Homo sapiens: one gene and its partners. The protein of the gene in region 1 purifies or fractionates together with the protein of each later gene. This does not show direct contact. Each region holds a gene or a part of one and is shown in the gene's direction. Other genes may lie near its edges. The genes, in order: STARD13, WRAP73, ZBTB21 and KIF13B.

Region 1 (3,569 bases):
TTATGGGAGCTACAATATTCAAGATTAGATTTTGGTGGGAACACAACCAAACCGTATCAGCCACCGCACCTGACTTCTAAGCCATAGAATTCTTTTCTGTACCTTGGCTTTGTACTCGCTTTCACTTTAAACTTGAATGTTCAAGTTTGTCATTTAGTCAAACCTACACGGAAACTAGATTTTGAAGGAATAAACAAGAATAGGAGGATCCCCACAATGATTAACTGTGCATCTGCTTAGGTTTCCTTAAAAACAACACACTGCAAGGTTAAAGGGAGTTAAAGTGGACGCTAGATACATAAAAAGATTAGTAGGCAATTGAACAAACATTGAAAGATACAAATAAGCAAATACCTCTCAGTGAGGGACTGCTGAATGCACTACCTTCTTTATTCTCTTCAGCAAACCTATGAGGCAAGACCCGCTTCAATCTTATAAGTGGCAGAAACTTACTTTAGAGAGGGTAAGTAGACTGTGGACAGTCACCTAGCTCTTAACTGGTATCACTGACACTTGGAACCAGGTCTTAAAACTGAACACCCAGGTAGAGTAAAATAAATTTAATTCAATTCACAAAAAATAAGCAATTATTATGTCCTTGGCATTGGACAGGCTATACATATGAATAAATATGTTTATATGAATAATGAAACAGAGAAACACAGGTCTTGCTCTTTTTTATTTTTTTGAGATAGTGTCTCACTTTGTTGCTGCGGCTGGGGTGCAGTGGTGCCATCACGGCTCACTGTAGCAGGCCCGGCTCTTGATGACTTCACCTGTAACAACTGAGAGTGGAGGCTTTCAAGCAGAAGGCTTCTAAGCTGAAAAAAAAAAATCATATGATTCGATTTGGACTACACTGTGGAAAGCTATTTAGATGGGGAAGATGCTGGAGACAGGGTTTCTCCCACATTTTTACTGTAACAGATCCAGAGAGAGGTGGCAAGGCCTACACTAAGAGAATGAGAGTGAAATTACGAATGAGGGAACAGATTTGAAAATCAGTTCAGAATTAGGTCTTGGTGATGTGCTTGGTGAGGATGAAGCAGGATCCGATGATTCAGTTTATTTCAGAAGGAAATGATATGCTCTAGGTCAAGGTCTGCGCTGGGCCCAAGGCTATGCAAAGCTAAACCAGGCCATCTCTGGCCTCAGGGAATGCAGATGCTCCCCTCTCAGGGGCTGCAAATTCAGGCAGAAACCAGACACCTAGAGTCAATGTGTGAGGCCCAAAGTGTAAGACAGTGCCAAGCCGCGGGGACCCACTGCAGCCACACAGAGGTGTGCGTCCTGCCAACGGCATTCTGACTCGGAGTTGATTCCACAGAAAAAGACGCTCATGCAGAGTAGCCGGATTGGATCACAAATAGCGATCTCCAGAATGGCTCCCTCATCTCTACTTAAAGAAATTCAGTGGTTCATTTTGCTGTTACCTTATCCAGGGAATACACGATAAGAATCAAGTGCAGGGGACTAAAATAAGGAGTGTTAGCTTTGAGATATACTGAAGCTGAGATTCAGATGGGGCAAGCTGGAAATATGGTCCCCGGGGCTCAGTGAAGAGGTTTCTGGAAAGAAGTAAGTGCCTTTTATGGCAGAGTTGAGTTCCTTTGTGAAAAAGAAGACTGCAGGTGCTTTATATTTAGACCGTCTAGTCTGATGTAATTATACCCTCTTTATAATCAGTCAGGGAAAACTTCTTAGAGAGGAAGGAAGGAGGCATTCAAAACCTCTTTGAAAATGGGAAGGAAGAAAGTTTGGCAAGTTGAGAAGGGTCCTCTGGCCACTGGGAGGAAGGGTATGTACAAGACAGTGCAAGTGGTAGAAGGACAGCTTAGAGGTGCCCAAGAAGCTCACACCTGTGCATGGGAGGACAGAGGGGAGGGAGGTGGAGGACCACACAGGGCTGCCCTCAGAGCACCCAGAGTTCCTGCTTCAGCCACGCTGTCTGCTAATGAGCATTTTCCTTGGTGCTCTGCAGGGTGACGACTCCGATGAGGAAGATCTTTGTATCAGCAACAAATGGACTTTCCAAAGAACCAGTCGCAGGTGGTCTCGTGTGGACGACCTCTACACGCTGCTCCCTCGAGGAGACAGAAATGGGTCACCGGGAGGCACGGGGATGAGGAACACGACCAGCAGTGAGAGCGTCCTCACAGACCTGAGCGAGCCTGAGGTCTGCTCCATTCACAGCGAAAGCAGTGGAGGCAGCGACAGTCGCAGCCAGCCGGGCCAGTGCTGTACAGACAACCCGGTCATGCTGGATGCCCCACTCGTCAGCAGCAGCCTCCCACAGCCCCCCAGAGATGTCCTCAACCACCCCTTCCACCCCAAGAATGAGAAGCCCACGAGGGCTAGGGCCAAATCATTTTTGAAACGCATGGAAACACTCCGAGGGAAGGGAGCCCACGGGAGGCATAAGGGGTCTGGGCGGACAGGTGGCCTGGTGATCAGTGGGCCCATGTTGCAGCAGGAGCCAGAGTCCTTTAAGGCTATGCAGTGCATCCAAATACCAAATGGAGATCTCCAGAATTCGCCGCCACCTGCCTGCAGAAAAGGGCTCCCATGCTCTGGCAAGTCGAGTGGCGAGAGCAGCCCGTCGGAGCACAGCAGCAGCGGGGTGAGCACGCCCTGCCTGAAGGAACGCAAGTGCCACGAGGCCAACAAGCGCGGGGGCATGTACTTGGAGGACCTAGATGTGCTGGCGGGGACAGCACTGCCGGATGCAGGGGACCAAAGCCGTATGCATGAATTTCACTCCCAAGAGAATTTGGTGGTGCATATTCCCAAGGATCACAAACCAGGAACATTCCCCAAGGCACTTTCTATTGAAAGCCTCTCTCCCACAGATAGTAGCAATGGGGTTAATTGGAGGACCGGTAGCATCTCCCTGGGCAGAGAGCAGGTCCCTGGTGCCAGGGAGCCCCGGCTCATGGCGTCCTGCCACAGAGCCAGCCGAGTCAGTATCTATGACAATGTCCCTGGCTCCCATCTGTATGCCAGCACAGGAGATCTTTTGGACTTGGAGAAAGATGACCTTTTCCCTCACTTGGATGACATTCTGCAGCATGTCAATGGGCTCCAAGAGGTAGTCGATGACTGGTCCAAAGATGTCTTGCCTGAACTGCAAACTCATGATACATTGGTTGGGGAACCTGGCTTATCCACCTTTCCATCTCCTAATCAGATCACCTTAGATTTTGAAGGTAACTCTGTCTCAGAAGGTCGGACGACACCCAGTGATGTGGAAAGAGATGTAACATCTCTTAATGAATCTGAGCCTCCTGGGGTCAGAGACAGGAGGGATTCTGGTGTAGGGGCCTCTCTGACCAGGCCAAACAGGTAGGTGGCATGCACTTGTGAAATGATTTTTCATCCATTTCATAGTAATTGTGTTCTGTTTATTTCTTTAACAAACATACACAGAGTACTTACTAAATGCCTGACTCTGTTCTAAGTGATGTATGTGATTAGGAATTATTTGAACAGAAGTATGACTTCTGTACAGGTATCATGGTGATTGAATCCATGTGAACTCATATTTATTTGTGCTTATCCTTTATTTTGTT
Region 2 (3,569 bases), on another chromosome or scaffold:
TTCTGTGTCCAAAGCTTAACTAAATGAGGTCTTAGGAATGACAATGTGAATAAACAGTTTTAAAACAACAACGAAATGAAATCACCAAGAAGCGTGGCTTACTTTTACACTGGAATCCAGCACCAGCCCTTCATCATGAAAGGTTCTAAAAGACACCCTGTGTGATCGGGTCTCTGCTGGTTTTAAGGGAGTTGTCTCTCGGCGAGGCCTCGCTATAGACTGCTGATGAGTTTGAAGACACCCTGTGCGGTCGGGTCTCCGCTGCGTTTAAGCGAGCTGTCCTCGCTGTCTCTCGGTGCTGATGAGTTTGCACTTGTGTGTTTCTTTCTTCTCTCAATCCAGGTCTGGTCTTTAGAGCAGCCCGAATGGCACTGCAAAATAGACGAGGGCTCAGCCGGGCTGGTGGCCTCGTGCTGGAGCCCGGACGGGCGCCACATTCTCAACACCACGGAATTCCATGTAAGTGTCAGCCCCAAGACACCTTACTGGCCATGTGATCCTGTCCTCTGCTCTCGAAACAGCTGGGGAGTGCGAGAGGGGGTGTGTTTGGAGTATGCTAGTCTCCCCTTATCCTCAGGGGATGCATTCTAAGACCACCAGGGGATTCAGATTGTACCAAACCCTGTATTTCCTGTGTTTTTTCCTATACAGCATACCTGTGATACATTTAATTTATAAATTAGATACAGTAAGAGATTAGCAACAATCATAGTATAGAACAAGGATAACAATATACTGTTTATAATTGCATGGATAGAAGATTTGGTCTTACTGAAGATCTGAGCAACAACCTCAGCATAGGATTTTTTCTTTCCTTGTTGCGTCAAGAACTTTCAGCTCGTCATTTAAAGGAAGCACTTTGTGGCTTCTCTTTGGCGTATCCAGATTGCGAGCCCCACCGCCCGTGCTTTGGGCTGCTACTGAGTCAGATAAGGGTGTCGTGAACACAGGCACTGTCTGCTGCCCTGGGTCTGATGACTGAGGTGGCTCCCGAGTGGCTGGTAGATTGGCGGGGTTGGAGGGAGCCGGGGAGCGTATATAGTGGTGTGTATATTTTAGGTCAGAGCATTATAAGCCACTAAGTATTATTGTCTGATCTTTTGTCCAGTTTTGAAGAAAAAACATTTTAAAAATCTTAATTTAGATTTTTTAGGATTTCGGCACTCCCTTTAATTCAACGATAGAAAATGCGCTGTGATATGAGCCGGCTCGCACCTTTCCTTCAGGAGCCTGGCCTGGGGGCGTGGCTCGGGGCGGTCGGCAGCCGCCCATTCACCTGCTGTAGGTACCGCACAACAGCCTCCGTGCTGAGCTCAGCGCGGAGGGGAATGTTGACATCCGAGAATAAATCAGAGGGATCTGGGATAGGAGACTGCATTTTAAGTTAAAATTAGGCATATGTCAAGTGTTTAGATACCAGGTCTTTGGTGTCCGCAGTGTCTTTTTAAGATACAGAAAAATGGACGAATTCCTTTAATAATGTGCTTTTCTGATGGAGTTGGATCCCAGTGTTTGGGCCCAAGTCCACTGAGTGCTCATAGCTGTCTGGGCTGCTGGCTGCACCTCGGTAACCCGCCCATCCCGCTGCGCCGCGCACACCACGGGGCAACCCGCCCATCCCGCTGCGCCGCGCACACCACGGGGCAACCCGCCCGTCCCGCTGCACGGCGCACACCACGGGGCAACCCGCCCGTCCCGCTGCGCCGCGCACACCACGGGGCAACCCGCCCGTCCCGCTGCGCCACGCACACCACGGGGCAACCCGCCCATCCCGCTGCGCCGCTCACACCACACTGCAGCCCTCCCGTCCCGCTGCGCCGCGCACACCACGTAGATGATGGCACCTGGGAGGATTTCTCCCAGCGTGTGGCTGCAGATGCTCTGTAGGGTTTCATTCGGCTTTTTTCAAGCTGGCATCGGCTGGGATAAAGTTTTATCCAGCCATGAGGGTTGCTGAATCAACTGCTTCAGATGGCTGGATGGCTTTACATATTTTTCAGTTTCGATTTTAAAAAATACTCCAAATCTAATGTCTGCTATTATGGGCTGTCAGAGAATAAGACAGGAAACAAAGGCCCACCAATGTCTCCGCACTATGTATTGACATTGGAAGGCACTTTCGGCCTGAGTGTTTCAGAGAGGATAATTTGAGCTTTTCACGCAGCCGTGTCTAACAGTCTTCAGGCCTGTAATGCTTTGGGCCCAAATCTGCCCTTGAGAAGGGCTCATGTCATGGGGTCAGCCTTGTTGTATTATCTTATTAAATGGCCCAGAAGGAAAACTACCATCTATAGAGTTTAGAAACCTTAAAAGATGGATAAAAGCCTGGTTTTGTTGAGCATCCCATGTCACACACACCAATATTGAAAACACCTTTGCTACAGAACAAACTGATTTTTCATAGAGTACATTTAGATGACATTGTTCAACCTAAGACTAAGGTCATGACCACTTTGCTGGTGGCCTTAGAGGAAACGTTAAGACCAGGTGGTGGATGAGGACCGGTAACCTCAAGGCATGGGGCATCTTGACCAAGATGTCAAAATGTGTCTCCAGCTTTGCATGCGAACTTTAATGGTTGCAAGTGAGGAAACAAAACCGGAATTCCAGACGTGCTGGCCAGGAAGTGAGCTGCGGGCACCGTCCATCAGTCTCATTCACAAGAGCAAGGACCAGACCCGTTCGAGGATTAGCGGGGCCACTAGGTCCCCTTCTGAAGGCGCGACCCCATGTCCGGGGCTCAGCGGGGCCACTGGATCCCCTTCCGAAGGCGCGACCCCATGTCCGGGGCTCAGCGGGGCCGCTGGGTCCCCTTCCGAAGGCGCGACCCCATGTCCGGGGCTCAGCGGGGCCGCTGGGTCCCCTTCCGAAGGCGCGACCCCATGTCCGGGGCTCAGCGGGGCCGCTGGGTCCCCTTCCGAAGGCGCGACCCCATGTCCGGGGCTCAGCGGGGCCGCTGGGTCCCCTTCCGAAGGCGCGACCCCATGTCCGGGGCTCAGCGGGGCCGCTGGGTCCCCTTCCGAAGGCGCGACCCCATGTCCGGGGCTCAGCGGGGCCGCTGGGTCCCCTTCCGAAGGCGCGACCCCATGTCCGGGGCTCAGCGGGGCCGCTGGGTCCCCTTCCGAAGGCGCGACCCCATGTCCGGGGCTCAGCGGGGCCGCTGGGTCCCCTTCCGAAGGCGCGACCCCATGTCCGGGGCTCAGCGGGGCCGCTGGGTCCCCTTCCGAAGGCGCGACCCCATGTCCGGGGCTCAGCGGGGCCGCTGGGTCCCCTTCCGAAGGCGCGACCCCATGTCCGGGGCTCAGCGGGGCCGCTGGGTCCCCTTCCGAAGGCGCGACCCCATGTCCGGGGCTCAGCGGGGCCGCTGGGTCCCCTTCCGAAGGCGCGACCCCATGTCCGGGGCTCAGCGGGGCCGCTGGGTCCCCTTCCGAAGGCGCGACCCCATGTCCGGGGCTCAGCGGGGCCGCTGGGTCCCCTTCCGAAGGCGCGACCCCATGTCCGGGGCTCAGCGGGGCCGCTGGGTCCCCTTCCGAAGGCGCGACCCCATTTCGGGGGTTAGTGGGGCCGCT
Region 3 (3,569 bases), on another chromosome or scaffold:
GAGAACTTGTGCAGGGGAACTCCTCGTTATGAAACCATCAGCTCTCCTGAGATTTATTCACTATCACAAGAAGAGCATAAGAAAGACCTGCCCCCATGATCCAGTTACTTCCCACTGGGTGCCTCCCAGATGTGGGGAATTGTGAGAGCTACAATTCAAAATGAGATTTTGCTGGGGACACAGCCAAACTGTATCATTCCACCCTGGGCCCCTCCCAAATCTCATGTCTTCACATTTCAAAACCAATCATGCGTTCCCAACAGTCCCCCAAAGTCTTAACTAATTTCAGCATTAACTCAAAAGTCCACAGACCAAAGTCTCTTCTGAGACAAAGCAAATCCCTTCCGCCTATGAGCCTGCAAAGTCAAAAACAAGTTAGTTACTTCCCAGATACAGTGGGGGTACAGGCATTGGGTAACTACAGCCGTTCCAAATGGGAGAAATTGGCCAAAACAGAGGCTTACAGGCCCCGGTGCAAGTCCAGAATTCAGCAGGACAGTCAAATCTCAAAGCTCCAAAATGATCTCCCTTGACTCCATGTCTCACATCCAGGTCAAGCTGATATAAGAGGTGGGCTCCCATGGTCTTAGGCAGCTCTGCCCCTGTGGCTTTGCAGGGTATAGCCCCCACTCCTGGCTGCTTTTATGGGCTGGCATTGAGTGTCTGTGAGTTTTGCAGGCACGCAGTGCCAGCTGTCGACGTATCTACCATTCTGGAGTCTGGAAGATGGTAGCCCTCTTCTCACATCTCCACTAGGCAGTGCCCCAGTGGGGACTCTATGTGGGGGCTTCAACCCCACATTTCCCTTCTGCATTGCCCTAGCAGAAGTTTCTCCATGGGGCCCTGCCCCTCATGGAGGGGACACAGCCCTGCAGCAGACTTCTTCCTGGATATACAGGTGTTCTCATACATCCTCTGAAATCTAGGCGGAGGTTCCCAAACCTCAGTTCTTTACTTCTGCACACCTGCAGGCTTAACACCACATGGAAGCCGCCAAGGCTTGGAGCTTGCACCATCTGAAGCCATGGCCCAAGCTGTACCTTGGCCCCTTTCAGCCATGGCTAGAGCACCTGGGACACAGGGCACCAAGTTCCTAGGCTGCACACAGAAAGGGGGCCCTGGGCCTGGCCCACAAAACCATTTTTTCCTCCTAGACCTCTGGGCCTGTGATGGAAGGGGCTGCTGCAAAGGTCTGACATGTCCTGGAGACATTTTCCCCATTGTCTGGGTGACTAACATTCGGCTCCTCCTTACTTAGGCAAATTCCTGCAGCCAGTTTGAATTTCTTCTCAGAAAATGGGATTTTCTTTTCTATCGCACTGTCAGGCAGCAACTTCTCCAAGCTTTTATTCTCTACTTCCCTTATAAAACTTAATGCCTCTAACAGCACCTGAGAACCTCTTGAATGCTTTGCTGCCTAGAAATTCCTTCTGCCAGATACCCTAAATCATCTCTCTCAAGTTGAAAGTTCCATAGATCTCTAGGGCAGGGGCAACATGCCACCAGTCTCTTTGCTAAAACATAACGAGTCACCTTTGCTTCAGTTCCCAACAAGTTCCTCATCTCCATCTGAGACTACCTCAGCCTGGATTTCATTGTCTGTATCATTATTGGCATTATGGTCAAAGCCATTCAGCAAGTCTCTAGGGAGTTCCAAAGTTTCCCACATTTTCCTGTCTTCTTCTGAGTCCTCTAAACTGTTCCAGCCTCTGCCTGTTACCCAGTTCCAAAGTCGCTTCCACATTTTCGGGTATCTTTTCAGCAGTGCCCCACTCTACTGGTATCAATTTACTGTATTAGTCCATTTTCACACTTCTAATAAAGACATACCCAAGACTGGGTAACTTACAAGAAAAAGCGGTTCAGTGGACTCACAGTTCCACGTGGTTGGGGAGGCCTTTTAATCGTGGTGGAAGGCAAGGAGGAGCAAGTCACATCTCACATGGCAGCAGGGAAGAGAGAACTTGTGTAGGGGAACTCCTCTTTATAAAATCATCAGATCTCATGAGGCTTACTATCATGAGAAGAGAACGAGAAAGACCCACCCCCATGATTCAGTTACCTCCCACTGGGTCCCTCCCACGACGTGGGAATTGTGGGAGTTACAATTCAAGAGGAGATTTGGGTGGGGACACCACCAAACCGCATCACCTGGCAAGGTGGCATGTGCTTGTGGTCCCAGCTACTCAGGAGGCTGAGTGGGAGGATTGCTTGAGCCCAGGAGATTGAGGCTGCAGTGAGCCATCATGGTGCCACTGCACTCCAGCCTGGGTGACAGAGAGATACCCTGTCTCAAAATAAAAACAAGGGTCTCACAAGACCTGCTTTGCAACCAATTGTTAACAGTTCACATTATGTTTAAGTATATGTAGTAATAAAGCTGATTTTCTTTCAGAATTATAGACTTCAGGGGTTTGATAATTCGTACTTGTTTTCTGAATTGGTAAGGAATAGTGCCAAGCATCAAATGGATAAGGACCCTAAATAATAAACCTTTATTTTCAAATATTGCTTCCATATCTACCTGCCAAGTTCTGGCAGCCTTTTTGATGATATACAAATGCCTATATTATAGTTCCTGCAATTCTTCTATTTTAATGAGGACCTACTTAAACCACGAGACTTATTTTACATTTTCACCATTATTTAAATAAGATTGTTCATTCATAGAGCTTCTGTTAGCCTACGGTCTGCTAAATATTGGTACCTATGCAAAGACAGCTGATGTTCCCTGCTCTTGAGGAGCCAGGGGAACTTTTCACTGCAATATCTGTAGTAATTTTACATTTTGTCTTTTAGATAAACTCAAGCCATGGAGGGATTACTGCATTACATCAACCCTGCACACGCCATTTCTCTCCTAAGTGCCCTGAATGAGGAGCGTCTCAAAGGACAGCTGTGTGATGTGCTGCTGATTGTTGGAGACCAAAAGTTCCGAGCTCATAAAAACGTCTTGGCTGCCAGCAGCGAATACTTTCAGAGTTTATTCACAAATAAGGAAAATGAGTCACAAACTGTATTTCAGCTTGACTTCTGTGAGCCAGATGCTTTTGATAATGTTTTAAACTACATTTATTCTTCCTCTCTATTTGTTGAGAAGAGCAGCCTTGCTGCTGTGCAAGAACTTGGCTATAGTCTTGGGATTTCCTTTCTGACTAACATCGTTTCTAAAACACCTCAAGCCCCCTTTCCAACGTGTCCTAATAGAAAAAAAGTGTTTGTAGAAGATGATGAAAACAGTTCTCAAAAGAGAAGTGTCATTGTTTGTCAAAGTAGAAACGAAGCGCAAGGAAAAACTGTTAGTCAAAATCAACCCGATGTAAGCCATACTTCCCGGCCCTCTCCTAGCATTGCAGTCAAGGCCAATACCAATAAGCCACATGTCCCAAAACCAATAGAACCACTTCATAATTTGTCATTAACTGAAAAGAGTTGGCCGAAAGATAGTTCTGTGGTATATGCAAAGTCTCTTGAGCATTCTGGATCTTTGGATGATCCTAATAGAATCAGTTTGGTGAAAAGAAATGCAGTGTTGCCTTCAAAGCCTCTGCAAGACAGAGAAGCTATGG
Region 4 (3,569 bases), on another chromosome or scaffold:
GGATAAACTGGAAGCATAAGTCTTGATCTTCCATCAAAGGAGCTCCCAGTCTTGTTGATAATAAGATGCACATGTGAGTTCATTGGAAGAATATATGTACCTAGTGCACTGATGGCAGCCAATCATGAATTAAAGAAATGGGGGTGGAATTTGAGAACAGCACAGAAGACAGCACAAGCAGGCCCCTTGGCTCCAAGTTCCACCGGGGTGACGTGGAGGAATCCAGATGGGTGCTGCACATACAGTGGGTTTGTGTCGGCATCTGAGGATCACTGAACTTGGGGAATCCGCTGCAAAGTCTCTGATTTAGATGACTAGGTGAATGCTGGTGTCATTAACTGAATCAGAAGCACAGGAGAAGCAGGTTTTAGGGTGGAGGTGTGGGAAATGATGAGTTCTAGTCTCAGTCAACAGTGTGTCGTCAGTGCTTATGTGCTGTGTACCCTGCCTGCAACTATGAATAAGATGCAGTGTGTGCCTGGAAGCAACTCAGCACAATTGAGTTTTAGGTGTCTGAAGTGCAGCCAGGTGGATGGATCCAGAAGGCCATTGTGAATATGAGTCTGAAACGAAGGGACTGGACGTAGGTGTAGATTTCGGAGTCATTACTGTAGGTAGAAGATAGAGCACCTCAGGTGTGTCTGTGACAGAGGCGGTCACAGAGGCCAAGAAGAGCAACCTCAGGAGAATCAGGTGAAAGCAATGTTGTGGATGCCTAGGGAGGAAAAATGTGTCAAAAGAGTGAAAGGTGAAAGCAATCACATGTCACAGGAATGGCCGCGTGATTAACACAGAATTGTGTTCAGTGGATTTGGCATTATGATGGTCAGTGTTCATTTTCAGGATAATTTCACTGAAACGAATTAATTGGTATTGGGCATTGGCAGTGGGCTGAGGAGTGAGTGGGCGTGCCAGTATGGAGGCAGCGAGTCTCAAGAACATTCCTCTGAGAAACTCCAGGTAGAAGGGGAGGGTTCAGAGTGGTACCTGGAGGGGTAGGTACCTTTTTTTAAAAAAAAAAGTTTTGGGGAGATATTTGAACCTTGTATAGATAGAGCCAATAGATAGAAGTTTTTGAAATATGGGAGGAAGAGAATAATTATATAATGGGAAAGCCCAGGAATTTCAAGCTTAATTTTCTTGATGGGGTAGAATGTGAGGTTATTGAAAGTAGGAGGAATTGGGTGAGCTGGGGTCTTCTGAGTAGTGAATGTGTAGGAATGTGGTTGAAGGACCCTAACTGTATTTTCTATCTATTGAGGGTACTGGGGTCATCCATTCCGAGTTTTTTCTTCTTGGTTTTTAGATATAAGTCACATCCCCAAAGTGTACCATTCACTGGGTTTTAGTTTACTCACAGACTTGTGCAGCCATTATTAGTATACAATTCCAGAACATTTTCATCACCCCACAGAGGAACCTTGTAACTGTTAGCAGTCAGTCTCCATTTCCCACTTCCCAGCCCCTGGCAACCACTAATCTACTTCCTGACTCTATGGATTTGCTTATTCTGGACATTTAATACATGGAATCCTATATTATGTGGACTTTTGTATCTCACTTCTTTCACTTGGTATAATGTATTCAGGGCTCATCCATGTTTTGTCATGAATCAATACTTCATTCTTTTTATAGCTGAACAACATTCTGTTACACAGATATGCTGTGTTTTGTATTCATTCATCAATTGATGGGCATTTGGCTTGTTTCCAATTTTTGGCTATTATGAATGATGCTCCTTTGAACATTTATGTACAGGCTTTTGTGTAGACATGTGTTTTCATTTTTCTCAGATACGCATATGTATAGGAGTGGAATTTCTGAGTCATATAGTAACTAACTTTTGAGGAACTGTTTTCCAAAGCATATGAACCATTTTACATTCCCATAGAAATGCATGAAGGTTCCACTTTCTCCACATCCTCACCAACACTTGTTCTTGTCTCTCTCCATGAGTATTGCTATCCTAGTGGGTATGAGGTGGTATCTGATTGTGGTTTAGATTTGCCTTTCTCTGGTAGATAATGTTGAGCGTCTTTTCATGTGCATATTGGCCGTTTGTATAGCTTGAGAGAGATCTCTATTCACATCTTCCCCTTATTTCAAAAACTATATCTTTTTATTACTGAGTTGTAAGACTTCTTCATACATTCTGTATACCATTCTGTTATCAAATAGATGATTTGCAAATATTTTGATTTTATGGGTTTCTTTTTCACTCCCTTGTGTCCTTTGATGCATGAAAGTTTTAAATTTTGATGAAGTCCAGTTTATTTTTAGTTGCTTGTGATTTTGCTGTGATTTCTGAGAAACCATTATCTAACATCATGTGGATTTTCATTTGTTTTCTTCTAAGAGTTTGATAGGTTTAGCTCTTACATTTAGATCTTTGATCCAGTTGGAGTTTTGAATGTGGTATGAGGTAGGGATCCAACTTCATTCTTTGGCATGTGGATATCCAGTTGTTCTAGAACCATTTGATGAAAAGACTGTTCTTTCTCCATTAGATTGTCTTGGTACCCTTGTCAAAATCAATTGACCATAACTGTGACAGTATGTTTCTGGACTCCCAATTCCATTCCATCAATGTATATATGTCTTTCCTTATGTAAGTACCACACTGTCTTGATTACTCTACCTTTGTATTAAGTTTCGAAACTGGGAGTCAAGTCCTCTGACTTTGTTTTTCTTTTTCAAGATTGTTTTGGCTATTCTAGTTCTGCCTTAAGCGGGTTTTTTTTTTTTTTTTTTTTTTTTTTTGAGACAGTCTCACTCTTCTCACCCAGGCTGGAGTGTAATGTCGTAATCTTGGCTCACTGCAGCCTCTGCCTCCCAGATTCAAGCAGTTCTCCTTTCTCAGCCTCCTGAGTTTCTGGGATTACAGGTGCCTGCCACCCTGCCTGGCTAATTTTTGTATTTTTGGTAGAGATAGGGTTTCACCATGTTGGCCAGGTGCCTTATGAGTTTTTTAAATACCTGTTTCTTAGTCTTCTGAGGTTGATTGGTTTCTTTTTTAAACTGTTTATTTGTTTAGAGATGGAGTCTCATTCTGTTGCCCAGGCTGAAGTGCAGTGGTGTGATCATAGCTCACTATGACCTTGACCTCCTGGGCTCAAGATGTCTTCCCACCTCAGCCTCCCAAAGTGCTAGGATTACAGGCATGAGCCACTGCACCCAGCTGATTCATTTCTTGAGTATGAACATTTTATGTTTTTGGTCACATAGGATTATTTTATTTGTTTTCAGATATGGGGTCTTGCTCTGTTGCCCAGGCTGGAGTGTAGTAGCACAATCATAGCTCATCACAGCCTGTAACTCATGGGCTCAAATGATCCTTCCATCTCAGCCTCCTGAGAAGCTGGGCTACAGGTGCATGCCACTACACCTGGCTAATTATTTTTTTTAAATTTGTTTTAGGGACAGGTTCTTGCTGTGTTGCTCAGGCTAGTCTTGAACTCCTGGCCTCAAGTGATCCCCCTGCTTCAGACTCCCAAGTAGCTGGGGGATTATTTTAATTATTTTCACACTATCACATCTCCTCTCCTAACCTGGCATCTCATTCTTGTGTT

The links.
Region 2: the proteins of STARD13 (region 1) and WRAP73 purify together in Homo sapiens (co-immunoprecipitation; one large-scale study listed by IntAct). This does not show direct contact.
Region 3: the proteins of STARD13 (region 1) and ZBTB21 purify together in Homo sapiens (affinity purification with mass spectrometry, with the first as the bait; one large-scale study listed by BioGRID). This does not show direct contact.
Region 4: the proteins of STARD13 (region 1) and KIF13B purify together in Homo sapiens (affinity purification with mass spectrometry, with the first as the bait; one large-scale study listed by BioGRID). This does not show direct contact.

The regions. Positions count from the first base shown.
Region 1 is NC_000013.11:33,128,702-33,132,270, reverse strand, and holds part of STARD13 (stAR-related lipid transfer protein 13), read left to right. Parts: intron 1-1,981; coding exon 1,982-3,342; intron 3,343-3,569. UniProt on the Homo sapiens protein: GTPase-activating protein for RhoA, and perhaps for Cdc42. May be involved in regulation of cytoskeletal reorganization, cell proliferation and cell motility. Acts a tumor suppressor in hepatocellular carcinoma cells.
Region 2 is NC_000001.11:3,643,556-3,647,124, reverse strand, and holds part of WRAP73 (WD repeat-containing protein WRAP73), read left to right. Parts: intron 1-342; coding exon 343-459; intron 460-3,569.
Region 3 is NC_000021.9:41,993,339-41,996,907, reverse strand, and holds part of ZBTB21 (zinc finger and BTB domain-containing protein 21), read left to right. Parts: intron 1-2,799; 5' UTR 2,800-2,812; coding exon 2,813-3,569. UniProt on the Homo sapiens protein: Acts as a transcription repressor.
Region 4 is NC_000008.11:29,253,020-29,256,588, reverse strand, and holds part of KIF13B (kinesin-like protein KIF13B), read left to right. Parts: intron 1-3,569. UniProt on the Homo sapiens protein: Involved in reorganization of the cortical cytoskeleton. Regulates axon formation by promoting the formation of extra axons. May be functionally important for the intracellular trafficking of MAGUKs and associated protein complexes.